Homo sapiens: one gene and its partners. The protein of the gene in region 2 binds, or shares a complex with, the protein of the main gene of each other region. Each region holds a gene or a part of one and is shown on either strand. Other genes may lie near its edges.

The links.
Region 1: CDK9 (region 2) and EAF1 share a complex: the UniProt entries of both Homo sapiens proteins name them as parts of the super elongation complex.
Region 3: CDK9 (region 2) and EAF2 share a complex: the UniProt entries of both Homo sapiens proteins name them as parts of the super elongation complex.

The regions. Positions count from the first base shown.
Region 1 is NC_000003.12:15,434,021-15,437,743, reverse strand, and holds part of EAF1 (ELL-associated factor 1), read right to left. Parts: intron 3,397-3,723; coding exon 3,206-3,396; intron 1,403-3,205; coding exon 1,169-1,402; intron 1-1,168. UniProt on the Homo sapiens protein: Acts as a transcriptional transactivator of ELL and ELL2 elongation activities.
Region 2 is NC_000009.12:127,784,760-127,788,833, reverse strand, and holds the start of CDK9 (cyclin-dependent kinase 9), read right to left. Parts: upstream 2,801-4,074; 5' UTR 2,686-2,800; coding exon 2,594-2,685; intron 2,134-2,593; coding exon 2,052-2,133; intron 1,317-2,051; coding exon 1,226-1,316; intron 888-1,225; coding exon 721-887; intron 621-720; coding exon 449-620; intron 291-448; coding exon 142-290; intron 1-141. UniProt on the Homo sapiens protein: Protein kinase involved in the regulation of transcription.
Region 3 is NC_000003.12:121,852,046-121,855,768, reverse strand, and holds part of EAF2 (ELL-associated factor 2), read right to left. Parts: intron 1,083-3,723; coding exon 946-1,082; intron 1-945. UniProt on the Homo sapiens protein: Acts as a transcriptional transactivator of TCEA1 elongation activity. Acts as a transcriptional transactivator of ELL and ELL2 elongation activities. Potent inducer of apoptosis in prostatic and non-prostatic cell lines.

The DNA of each region.
Region 1 (3,723 bases), on a different chromosome or scaffold from region 2:
AACTTCCTTAAAGGAAGGTGTACCAAGAGAGAACATTCATCAGGGTTCCAAAAAGAGAAAAGCATAGAAAATTAGCCCTCTGTTCACCTTCAAAACAAATAAATTTTTGTTCTTGTTTTCCTGTTTTACTTTAGTATCAACTGCATTAAAACACACCGAGGCCAGGCATGGTGGTTCATGCTTTTAATCACAGCACTTCGGCAGTTGGGGAAATTACTTGTACCCAGGAGGAGTTCAAGACCAGCCTGGGCAAAACAGTGAGACCTTGTCTCTACAGAAAATTTTAAAAATGGCTGGGTATGGTGGCTCATGCCTATAATCTCGGCACTTTGGGAAGCCGAGGTGGGTGGATCACTTGAGTCTAGGAGTTTGAGACCAGCCTGGGCAATGTGGCGAAACCCTGTCTCTACCAAAAAAAAAAAAAAGGATCATGCCGCTGCACTCCAGCCTGGACAACAGATCAAGACTCTGTCTGAAGGAAAAAAAAAAAAAAAAAAGCCACCACACTGTCTGGGGACAGTGGATTCTTTTTTATAAAAGTTCAAGATAGGCAGGCATGGTGGTTCACACCCATAATCCCAGCACTTTGGGAGGCCGAGGCAGGCAGATCATTTGAGGCCAGGAGTTGGAGACCAGCCTGGCCAACATGGCAAAACCCCATCTCTACTAAAAATACAAAAATTAGCCAGGTGTGGTGGGACATGCTTGTAATCCCAGGTACTTGGGAGGCTGAAGCAGGAGAATCGCTTGAACCCGAGAGGTGGAGGTTGCAGTAAGCCGAGATTGCACCATTGCACTCCAGCCTGGGCGACAGAGTGAGACTCTGTCTCCAGAAAAAAGACCAATGGGCAGAGAGCAGTATGGTGGCAGGTAGCTCCCCGAAAGTCTGGTATAAAAGCAAAAACAGCCTATCTGTTCATGTTTTAGTGTTTTCTAGAATTCACAAACACCGGTATGAGCCAGTGGGGAATAGAAATAGAAAGAACAGATTTTTCATCTCATTTCCCTTTTTTACTGTTTAGTAACTCACACCTTTCTGCTCCAAACTATTTTTAACAAGATCCTCTCCCATGCCTTAAACATCTTTAGGTTTGTAAGTTCTGGCACAGGATAAATAGAAGCTGCACCTATGGCCCTCTCTCAGCCATAAAAAGGAGTACACACTTACTGAGGGTGTTCATGAGCTGGTTGCTTCCTTGTGGCCGGCTGGTTCCATTGGCAACGGCAGGCCTACTGTTGTAGGGCTGCTGGTGTGAAGGCTGCGGAGGAGAGGCTGGGCCATTGTCCTCGCCTCCACTGCTGGAGCTATCGTCATCACTTCCCGAAGAGCTCTCAGAGTCTGAAGAGCTGCTCCCACTGCTGCTGCTCATTTGTTCAATAATGTCAACTTCAGCCCTCAGCTCTGGAATAAAGGATATGACATGGATCAGCACAGCAGCCCTTTTCAAGGCAGTGCATTGGAGCTTCTATAAATAGTAAATCAGCAAAACCAACAGCAATAAGAAATAATTTAAAACAAAGTCCTACTTCTCAATACCTTAAAAAATGTACAAACAAAATTACCAAAACAAAAACACAGCCTGTTTCCAGAGACACAATGGAAACATTAAATTCACTCAAAATAAATAAAAAGCAAGACTGTTTCAGAATAATGGCTGTTCTGTGTAAGAAATGAATTAAGTCCATTTGCCTTTATCTACTAAAAGAAAAATTATGAATATTATGAACTATGGGATAAAACCATAATTCCCACATAAGAGAAGACAAATATTATGTAAAGTGGTTGAAAAATATTTGACTAGGAGTTGGGAGGTCTGAGTGCTTGTTTTGGATTTACCTCTAACCAGCAGTGACACCTAGGTAGAAGTCAATGAATTTTCCAAGCCACTCTGGAAAAATGAAAACCAGACAGCCTCTAAGGTCCTTTCCAGCTCTCATGTCCCATAAATAAATGGAGGTTTGCAGGAAGAACCATGGTGACTAAATAAAAATGGTAAAACAATATTCTTCCTCTTCACTCTTTACATATTTGACTGACAGCCATGCCTGTCAGGTACTGCATTTTTTACAGATATAAAATATCAATGTTAACTAACCATTTCAAGAAAGGCGCCAGATTTTCCTGTCTAGGCATACCATGTGGCCTTAAATGGCTATGGCTCCTTTAAGCATAATTGGCAACAACTAACCACTCATGCTCTGATTCCTATTCAACCTAAGTGAAAACTTCCATAACAGCATTCCAGTATCCATGAGGAAAAAAAAAAAGGGACAAAACAACTGTACACAGTGCAGAGTGATGTCTGCAGCCGTTCTACAGGGTGGAAAAGGCAAATTTCCCAGGGACAACTCTTTATGTTTCCCTACTATTATTATGGATTTAGTTATTTTATAAAACTTATAAATATGAAATATGACCTCACAACTTCTAAAGAGTCTGGAGGACTAAAACCATTCATCGTGTGAAGGAGAAAGCCAAGGTAAGCTTTTTTGTCTCAGGTTTGCAGTGGAGAGAACCAAACTGGACCTTTAACTCTTTCTAGGCCAGTATCTGTTTCTATTGGTCCTCATGGCCTCTTTCATATTTACACACTTTGTGTTAGCACAGGACATTTGCTTATGGTATTTTAAAAGGCATTTTAATCCTTTTTTTCCCCCCAAAAAAGAGATGTTATTGCCCAGGCTGGAGTTCAGTAGCTACCAACAGGCACGATCATAGCACACTGTAGCCTCAAACTCCCAACTTCAAGCGATCCTCCTGCCTCACAGTAGCTGAAACTACAAGTGTGCAGCACCATGGTCAGCTCCTCCAGCCTATATACTAATGTAGAGCTCAGAAAGGTTGCCACCTACGCTTAGTTTTCACCTCCAACACCTAGAATCCTTTCTTTCTCCGAAGCCTTAGAGGTGTGCCATATGGAGCTTAGATGGAAGTCATGCTTGTTTAAATCCTAGGCCTCTAAGCAGAATGGCTACAAAGATAGCCACAAACTCAAGTCACTATTCCAGGACTCACCCTTGTCAAATGAGGTAAGTGGCAGAAGCCCCCACCCTCCCCATCTCTGAACAGTGAGCTCTGCAGACATTTTTTTGATGGCATTGAATGCCCCAGCCACTGTATCAATACAGCAGCCATGTGATCTCCACAAGAAAATTCAGCACTCTACTCCAAGTTGCTATCATGGATCCAGAAAATGTTCTCTACCTCTTTTGATGTCATCCAACTGAGGTTCAGGTGAGGGGTTATCTTTCAAGGGAGAAGTTTTGGGTCCAACTGGAGGCTTCGTTGGAGCTCTGAATGGCATAGGTGGTGGAGGTGGTGGTGGCTGTGACGTCTGTGGAGGACGAGTGGGCTGCTGTTCCATTCGGGCCTGGATTTTACTGCTGCCCTCAGCTCTGAAAGGAGATACAGACATTAAATTAGCAGGGCAAAAATAGTGGTTCTCAAATTTGTCCAGGTGACTGAAAACTCAGAAGTCTCTGTAGAACCCCATGTTCTTTCCAGACCACTTCAAAATACTGATACTTGTAATTTTGTCATGTGAGCTATTCATTCAACATTTGAGTGTCTACTGTAATCCAGTACTATATTATGTATCAGGGATACAGACATGAATAGAATATTTACTGCCCTCGATGAGCTCAAATGTATAGCAAACAAATGTAGGATATAATGAAACTATGAAAATCCATTTTACTAGTAGAAAATACATTCATGCATCC
Region 2 (4,074 bases):
ACACACTCCCCACCCCAAGACAGGCCCTGTCACCAAACCAGCCTCCCTTCCAGAGAGGAGCGCTCCTTCCATTCTACTCCCCACTCCTCCTCTGCCGGGGGACCTCGATCTCTGCACCCCGTGGGGACCGGGGCCCCGTACCTCAGGGGTGATGGAGCCGCAGAGCTGACTGATGAGGGCGAGTTGGTGCTGCTCCGTGTTGCCCTGCATGATGGGGCTGCGGGTCCACATCTCTGCCATGATGCACCCAGCACCCCACAGGTCAATGGGGGGGCCGTAGTCCCGCTCCCCTGGGAAGAAGAGCGCACCAGGAGGGCCCCTTGAGCCCGAGGGCCTCCTGAGGCTCAATGCCCCAGGGCCGGCAGCTCAAGAAGCCCTGGCAGTTGGGGGGAAGGGGCCAGGTAGATGCCTGGCCCTCACCCCCCTTGGCCCGCTCGGGAGTCCTCACCGAGCAACAGCTCCGGGGGCCGGTACCAGAGTGTCACCACACGGTTGGTGTAGCGGTTGGGCTGGCTGTTCTTGGCCAGGCTGAAGGCCCGGGCCAGCCCAAAGTCTGCCAGCTTCAGGACCCCATCACGAGTGATAAGCACATTAGCAGCCTTCATGTCCCTATGCAGGATCTGCAGGAAGGGCAAGAGTGGGTCCTTTAGTGACATCCACCCGGGAGTGGGAGCCAAGACCAGCCCAAGCCTGGGTCCTCCTCCCAGCTCTGGCCCCCACCTTGTTTCTGTGGATGTAGTAGAGGCCGTTAAGCAGCATCTGCATCACCCTCTTGATCTCAGACAGCGTGAACTTGACCAAAACATTGCTCAACAGCCCAGCAAGGTCATGCTCGCAGAAGTCGAACACCAGGTATATACTACCCTTGCAGCGGTTATAGGGGGAAGCTGAGGCAGGAATAGAAAGAAGAAAAAGTCAAGAAAACCACACCCAACACACTTTCCCACAACCAGCTTCTTTCTTCCTGCTCCAACCCACGGGCACCCATGCCCTCCAGAGCATCTGTCTGTTCCTTCCTTCACCGGTCAAATATTTTCTGAGTGCCTCTTCTGGGCCAGGGCAGGCCCCGAGGAAGCACCAGCTACGATGAAAGAGGACCAGAAAAAGCAGTCACCATGGGTCCATCTGAGTTAAGAAGAGGCAGTTTAGGTGTGCCTAGTTCCAAGTTTACAAACAAAACCTTAGGCTACAAGTGTCATCTTCTCGTAAGAACCAAATAACTTACCTTTGGTTCGACAAATCTCAATCAAGTTGACCACATTCTCGTGTTTTAGAAGCTGAAGGATCTTGATCTCCCGCAAGGCTGTAATGGGGAACTGGGTGAGAAAGAGGGGAAAGTGGTCAAGAGTGAGCGCAGTACAGAGCCCAGCCCTGGGGTCTGTACTGACAGCCAAGTTGGGAGACAGAGCAAGATCATGGGCTCTGAAACCAGCTGTCTCAGAAGCCTTGTCTATAAAATGGATATTAGTAGCATGCACACTTCAAGATGATGGTTTGAGACAACAAACTGAAACAGCAATACTTTGCTATTAGCCACTAAACGCTCGGCGGTTTCAGTCTTCAAATTTCAGCTCTATGGCTGTTTCGTTGGCAACAAACATGATGATTTAAAAATGTCCTTGCTAATGCACATTACGCAAAAGAAGGTTTATGGGAAGTTGTACTAGAGCTAAGATGGGGTGGAGAAGGGACCGCTCCTTTTAAATACATTAAATAATTGAGTATCAGACACCTTTCAAAAAGCATGCATATATAATCTTTCTTTTACATTAAGCGAAATTTAACACTAAAAAAAGGTGTTTAAAGGCTTCCTAACTTCGTGAAATAAAGTGCACACGATGCATGCATCAACTCCCCCTCCTGGCCTCACCCATAACTGCCTAAGAATGAAACATTTAGTTTTAGGGTGGAAGCCACATTCCCTGGAAATTTCTGAACTACTACAAAAAAATTAAATCTCAACCTGAGACTCCCAGAAGCAGCAGGGTGGAAAACCGACCCGGGGTCCCGGGCAGTTAGCCGGCCGGCCCGCACGCCCGATCCGTACTCACCCCCTCCTTCTCGTTTTCCATCAGCACCTTCTTCAGAGCCACCTTCTGGCCGGTCTTGCGGTGCCTGGCCTTGAACACCTCCCTGCAGGCGGAAAGGGAGACCCGAGAACTCATCAGGCCATTTCCGCAGGGCCCGCCCCTCCCCCACTACAGGAGGAGGGGCAGCAGCAAAGAGATTCCCGGGCGGGGCTGGGCTAGGTACCCAGGGCACGCGGCTACCCCGCCACCCGGCAGCCTGTCTCGTTCGGAGCCTCTGCTTCCTTCCCTCAGTCCCTTCTCCTCACTTGGGCGTCCCTTGGAGAGATCCCGCTCCCCTCACGGGCGCCTCTCTGCAGCCCCTCCCCGCCCCCACCACGGGCCTCAGGCTCCTCCCCACCAGCCGGCTCCGTCAGGCCGGGGCGGGGTGCGGCGCGGCCTAGAGACCAGCAGGCAAGCCCGGGGACAGACGACTTCTCTACCAACTCGGGGGGGGCCCGGGCATCCCGACGTCGGCCCTAGGGGTGCAGGCCCAGGGCTCCCGGCCCCGAGGGGCCCAGCCTTACCCGAAGGTGCCTTGGCCGATCTTGGCGAGCTTCTCGTATTTGGAAACTTCATCACAAAAAGGGCACTCCACCGAGTCGTACTGCTTTGCCATGGCCGCCTCCAACGCGCCGCCGCCGCCCCCAGTCGCTGCTGCCGCCGCTCCTGCTCCGGGTCCCGCCGCCGCCGCACTCCAGGCCCCTCCGCGGCCGCGCCACTTCCGCCTCCACGGCCACTTCCGGCCTCGCGGCGCCGACCCCGCCTCTTCCGCCCGCCGCCCACCGCCAGGCCCCCTGGGACTTGTAGTTCCCGAGAGGCCAGGGGGAGCCGGAGCTGCAGAGGCGCCTCCGCCGCCGCCGCCGCTGCCCCCGCCTCCGCCGCCGCCACTACTAGCGGCGGCCCCGATCGGGGGCGCGGGGAGCCGGGGCGCCGGAGCTGGGGCTCGGGGTGGCGCGTCCCGCTGCATGGGCCCGGGCCGCCGCTGCTGCCGAAGCTGCTGCCGCTCTGGCGCCCGATCCGGGGCCAGCCGCAGTGCCCTGCTCCTCCTCCTCCGACGGCGCCGCCTCCGCCGGGCTGCGCGGGGCGGCGGGCGGGGGGTCAGCCCCCGAGCCGCGGCCTGGGAGCTCCCTGGCCGGACCCGGGCCCGGGGCGGCCGGGCGAGGGGGCGAGACGGGAAGAGCCGACTAGGAGACGGCCCGAGAGCCCAGGAGGGGGCGCGTTATAAAGGGGGAGGTGCCCGGCCTCGCCCTCCCCTCCTCCTCCGCCCGCCCCCGCCCTCCTCCCTCCCACCCTCCGCGGCCGCACCTGCCGCCGCCGCCACCGCCCGCCCGCTCGCTGTCCGCCGGCCGCCCTCGGCGCGTCACCGCCCGCGGCCCCTCCTCCGCCTTCGGAGGTGGGGCCCCGCGCTCGGCACCTGGCTGCGGGCGCCCTGCCGCGTGCCTCAGTTTACCCCCACATGTCGGCTGCAGCGGAAAGCCCCTTCCTCCCCGGCTCGGAGTGCCCCCACAGAGGCGAAGGCGGGAGGCGCGGAGGGAGCGTCCTCCGGCCCTGGGAGGAGAGAACGGCCCCCGCCTCCGCCTCCCCCGGTCCCCGCCACCCTCCGTTGACATGGCAACCGACGGCCGCCAGGGGGCGCGGCGGCACTAGCGGCGACGAGCAAGCAACGCCCGGGCCTTCTATCGCTGGGGTCTGGCTCTCCGGGAGGCAGGGATGGGACCCGCAGGACTCCCACCTCCGCTGAGTCGTGCCAGAGCTGGTCGGGCCCCGAGTCAGTAATCGCAAAAAACAGCTACCATTTTCTCAGCACTCTTGTGTACTCAGGAAGTGCTGGGCGTTCCCGCCGAATCCTGAATCAACAGCCCCATAGTCAGGATCACTAACCCATTTTGCAGAAGAAGACGTTGAGGCTCAGAGGTGAGGTCATTTGCCCAAGGTCACACGGCGACAAAGTTGGGACCCGAACCTGGGTGTCTGAGTGAGGGGATTCTCTTGACTCACGCTATTC
Region 3 (3,723 bases), on a different chromosome or scaffold from region 2:
CAACATCGCCCCCTACTTTCCAAAACGTATACACAGGTACAGAGACAAACCTCTGCTCCGTTCAAGTAGGTCTTACTCATTGGCCCTGAATAAATCAGATATCAAACTTGTCTTACATTCTCATCTCCTCTCTAATCAATTAAATCGGTATTGCACAAACTTTCTTCTGGTGTGAATCACAGCAGGGCATGGATGGTAGGGGTGAGGGGATATTAAAAAATAGAGTTTCCCAGGATCCTTCCCTGATTTAAGGTTGGATTCGGGAACTAATTTTTAACAAGCACCCAAGGTAATTCTTATGATCCTAACCTCCTCTTAAGGTACATCAAAAAGGCCTCCCTGAATTTTCCAATCTACCATTACTTCTCCTTTTTCTTAATTCCTAGAGCAATTTTTGTCTATACTATTTGCATGGCTTTTAGAGCAAACATCCTTATATTACAGGGTAAGTAATGTGTTACCTATTTCCAAAAAGGATTTGAGATGGGTATATTCTCCTATTGACTTTTTAAATGGAATAGTCTGTTTATCTGAATAAAATGCAGAAGTTTTGAGGTGTTTGCAGAGCAAACTTTCCTTTTTCTAGTACCTTACACATCCTAGGTACTCAATAAATTTTTACTAATGAAGATGAAATTATTTTAGAGAATGTATAATGGCTTCCTTCAATCCAGTTATACAGAAGTATCTACAATAGGATAAAAAGTGTACCTATACCTATAGAAAGCATTTAGAAGCAAAACAAGCTTTTATATATCACAGGGTAATGTGGTAAAACGCTTTTTGCTTAGGATCTCCACCAAATTTAAACTTAGAAAAAGATTAAAACATTTTTGTACCACACAGAAATAACTCCTATATTATAATGTGACTTAATAAATTTTTTATTGACATTTCCTTAGAAATTTATGTTTATAATATAATTTATTTCATTAAACCACATACCTTGTTTTTTTTACAGTGATGTTGCTGCTGAGTTTTTCTAGCCGACATTCTCCAGTATCATGGTTAATAATCAAAATGCATTCTTTTAAGTAAGGTTTTTTTGAACCTTTGAAAACAGTTACTGGTGGAGTTGAACCCTGTTTAAAAAGTTAATTATTATTACTTAAAATTTATCATAGGAATTCACTTGGGAAGGCCTTTGAAATCTTGATTCTGGGTTTCTCCTTCTATGTTATACTTCAAGTCACCCATAAACTACCTAAATTTACTACCCTGAATCCAAAGAGTGTAGTAAAAAAGACAGATGAAGATAGGCTGAAATCTCAAAGCTGCTGTCATTGAGGAAAGGGAAGACAGGAGGTACTCACCTTGGGACAGTAAAGATTTGTTTCTTTGGCCTATAATGAGTAATTGAGATTCAATTCGAACACAACCAATATATTTTATGGATAAGGAAACAGAGCCTTGAATCATATTTTCTATTCCTCCTTTTTTTTTTTTTTTTTTTGAGACAGAGTCTTGCTCTGTTGCCCGGGCTGGAGTGCAGTGGCACGATCTCGGCTCACTGCAACCTCCACCTCCTGGATTCAAGTGATTCTCCTGCCTCAGCCTCCAGAGCAGTTGGGACTATAGGCATGGACAACCACGCCCAGCTAATTTTTATATTTTTAGTAGAGACGGGGTTTCACCATGTTGGTCAGGCTGGTCTCGAACTCCTGACCTCAAGTGATCCACCCATCTCAGTCTCCCAAAGTGCTGTGATTACAGGCAGAAGCCACTGTGCCCAGCCTCCTCATCTTCTTTCTTATTGCTTTATAAGTTTAATTTTTAAAATCTGGCATTTTCTTAAAGCAGTACCTCCCTATGCATATTAAGGAACACCTCTTACACTAAACCCACTAATTAAATTTAGCATAATTAAAAGTAAGATAAGCAGACATTATGTGCTTAATGATGTCATATGAAAGTACACTGCGCCATCCATAAAATACTCTTGCCAAAAACCACACAAAAACCCCAAAGAATTTAATTCTTATCAAACCCCAAAGAATCTGTAATCCAGCCTGCCCTTAGATATATAACTACCAATATATAGAAAATAGAAGGAATAGAGGAACAAGTTAAATACATCCAGATAGAAGTAATTTGAAGTCCAGAATGTAGGTATATTCTCTAGGACAGATAGTACGGTTTTTCCAACAAACCAATGGCATAAAAAAGAGAAGAGAGCCAGGTGCAGGCACTGTAGTACCAGCTACTTGTGGAGGATGGGTGCTGAAGCAGGAGGACAGCTTGAAGCCAGGAGTTCTAGGCTTCAGTGTGACATAATCACACCCGTGAATAGCCACTGCACTCCAACCTGGGCAACACAGTGAGACCCTGTCTCTAAAAAAGATAAATTAAAAAAGGGGTGGAGAAGAAAGGAAGGGACTTTTAAAGAATAAAAGAGACAAGAAATACAATATTCAAATACAATGTAGAAATCTTATTTGGATTCTAGTTAGGACATTTTACAGACAAATGTCTGTAAAAAACACGTTTTTGAGATCATCACAAAATTGTGACTATGGACGAAGTATTATCAATTATGTTATTTGTGATAATAGCATGGTGCTTAGATAGAAATGTCCTTATCAGTTAGAGATACATAAGTAAGCATTGATGAAATGGCACATTGTCTGGGATTTGCTATAAAATATGCCAAGGAAAAAAATGGTAAGACATTAGATTAAAAAATAAAAAGATTAGCAAAATGTTGATAATTGTTAAAGCTCAGTGATGGGTACATGTAATTCATTATACAATTCTGTTGGCAATAAAAGAAACCTAGATCATTACTAATAAACTACATCTACTTACATGCTCCTCCCCTATCTTTTGTCCCTGCTCCATCAAACCTGAAGGAATTTTACGTTTGTCATTCTTTTGCTTTATCCCACATATATGTATTTCTAAACAATTATTTGTGTATGTTTGTCTTTGGAGTTTATAAAAGTACATTAAATTTTAATGGATTTATCATAATAATTTTATCAAATATTACAAAAATAATAAAATAGTACTGTTAGATCAGGTTAGAAAAGGATGACCTCTAAAAAGGCTAAGTGGTGTATCATATTAAAGTTAATCATTAGAGATTTACTAAATGAGCACTAGGAGGAGTATAAGATAAATTAGGTAATTGAAAATGCCATAAAAGATGGGTAGGTTAGAGATTTCTGAAGGTATGGAGGGAAAATTATAAATGTAAAATAAAGGAACAGTTGTTTGTGGGTTTTTTACCTCTCCCAAAGACTAAAGTAATCTACAGAAAATCAAGAATGCACAACACGTAGATGAAGACATGTCTGGGCTAGCTCTAAAACGGTTAGATGTGGAGCACTTAGTTGAAGCCCTGGTAAGCTGGAGAGTCAGGAGCATGATTATAACCAAACAAAGTGGGTCTACTTGGCTGGTAAGTAAATTTTTCAGATGTGTTGACTGAAACAAGTAAGATACCCCAAAATAGTTACCTAAGGACTCCAAATTACAGTTGATAAGAGATTTGTGCAAGATATTCTTAATGATATCTGTACTCTTAATTAGAATGGAATACATCTAAAAATTACAATGTATTATTGTTCTCTGAGCTCCTGAAAATAAGAACTAATCATTAATTTTTAAAAAATTGCTCTCAGCACCTGAAGAAGTATCAAGACCTTTATAAATATTCAATGAAGGTTAAATATGAATAATATAGACAATTTCTGGTCATAAGTAACAAATGAAACAAATCTT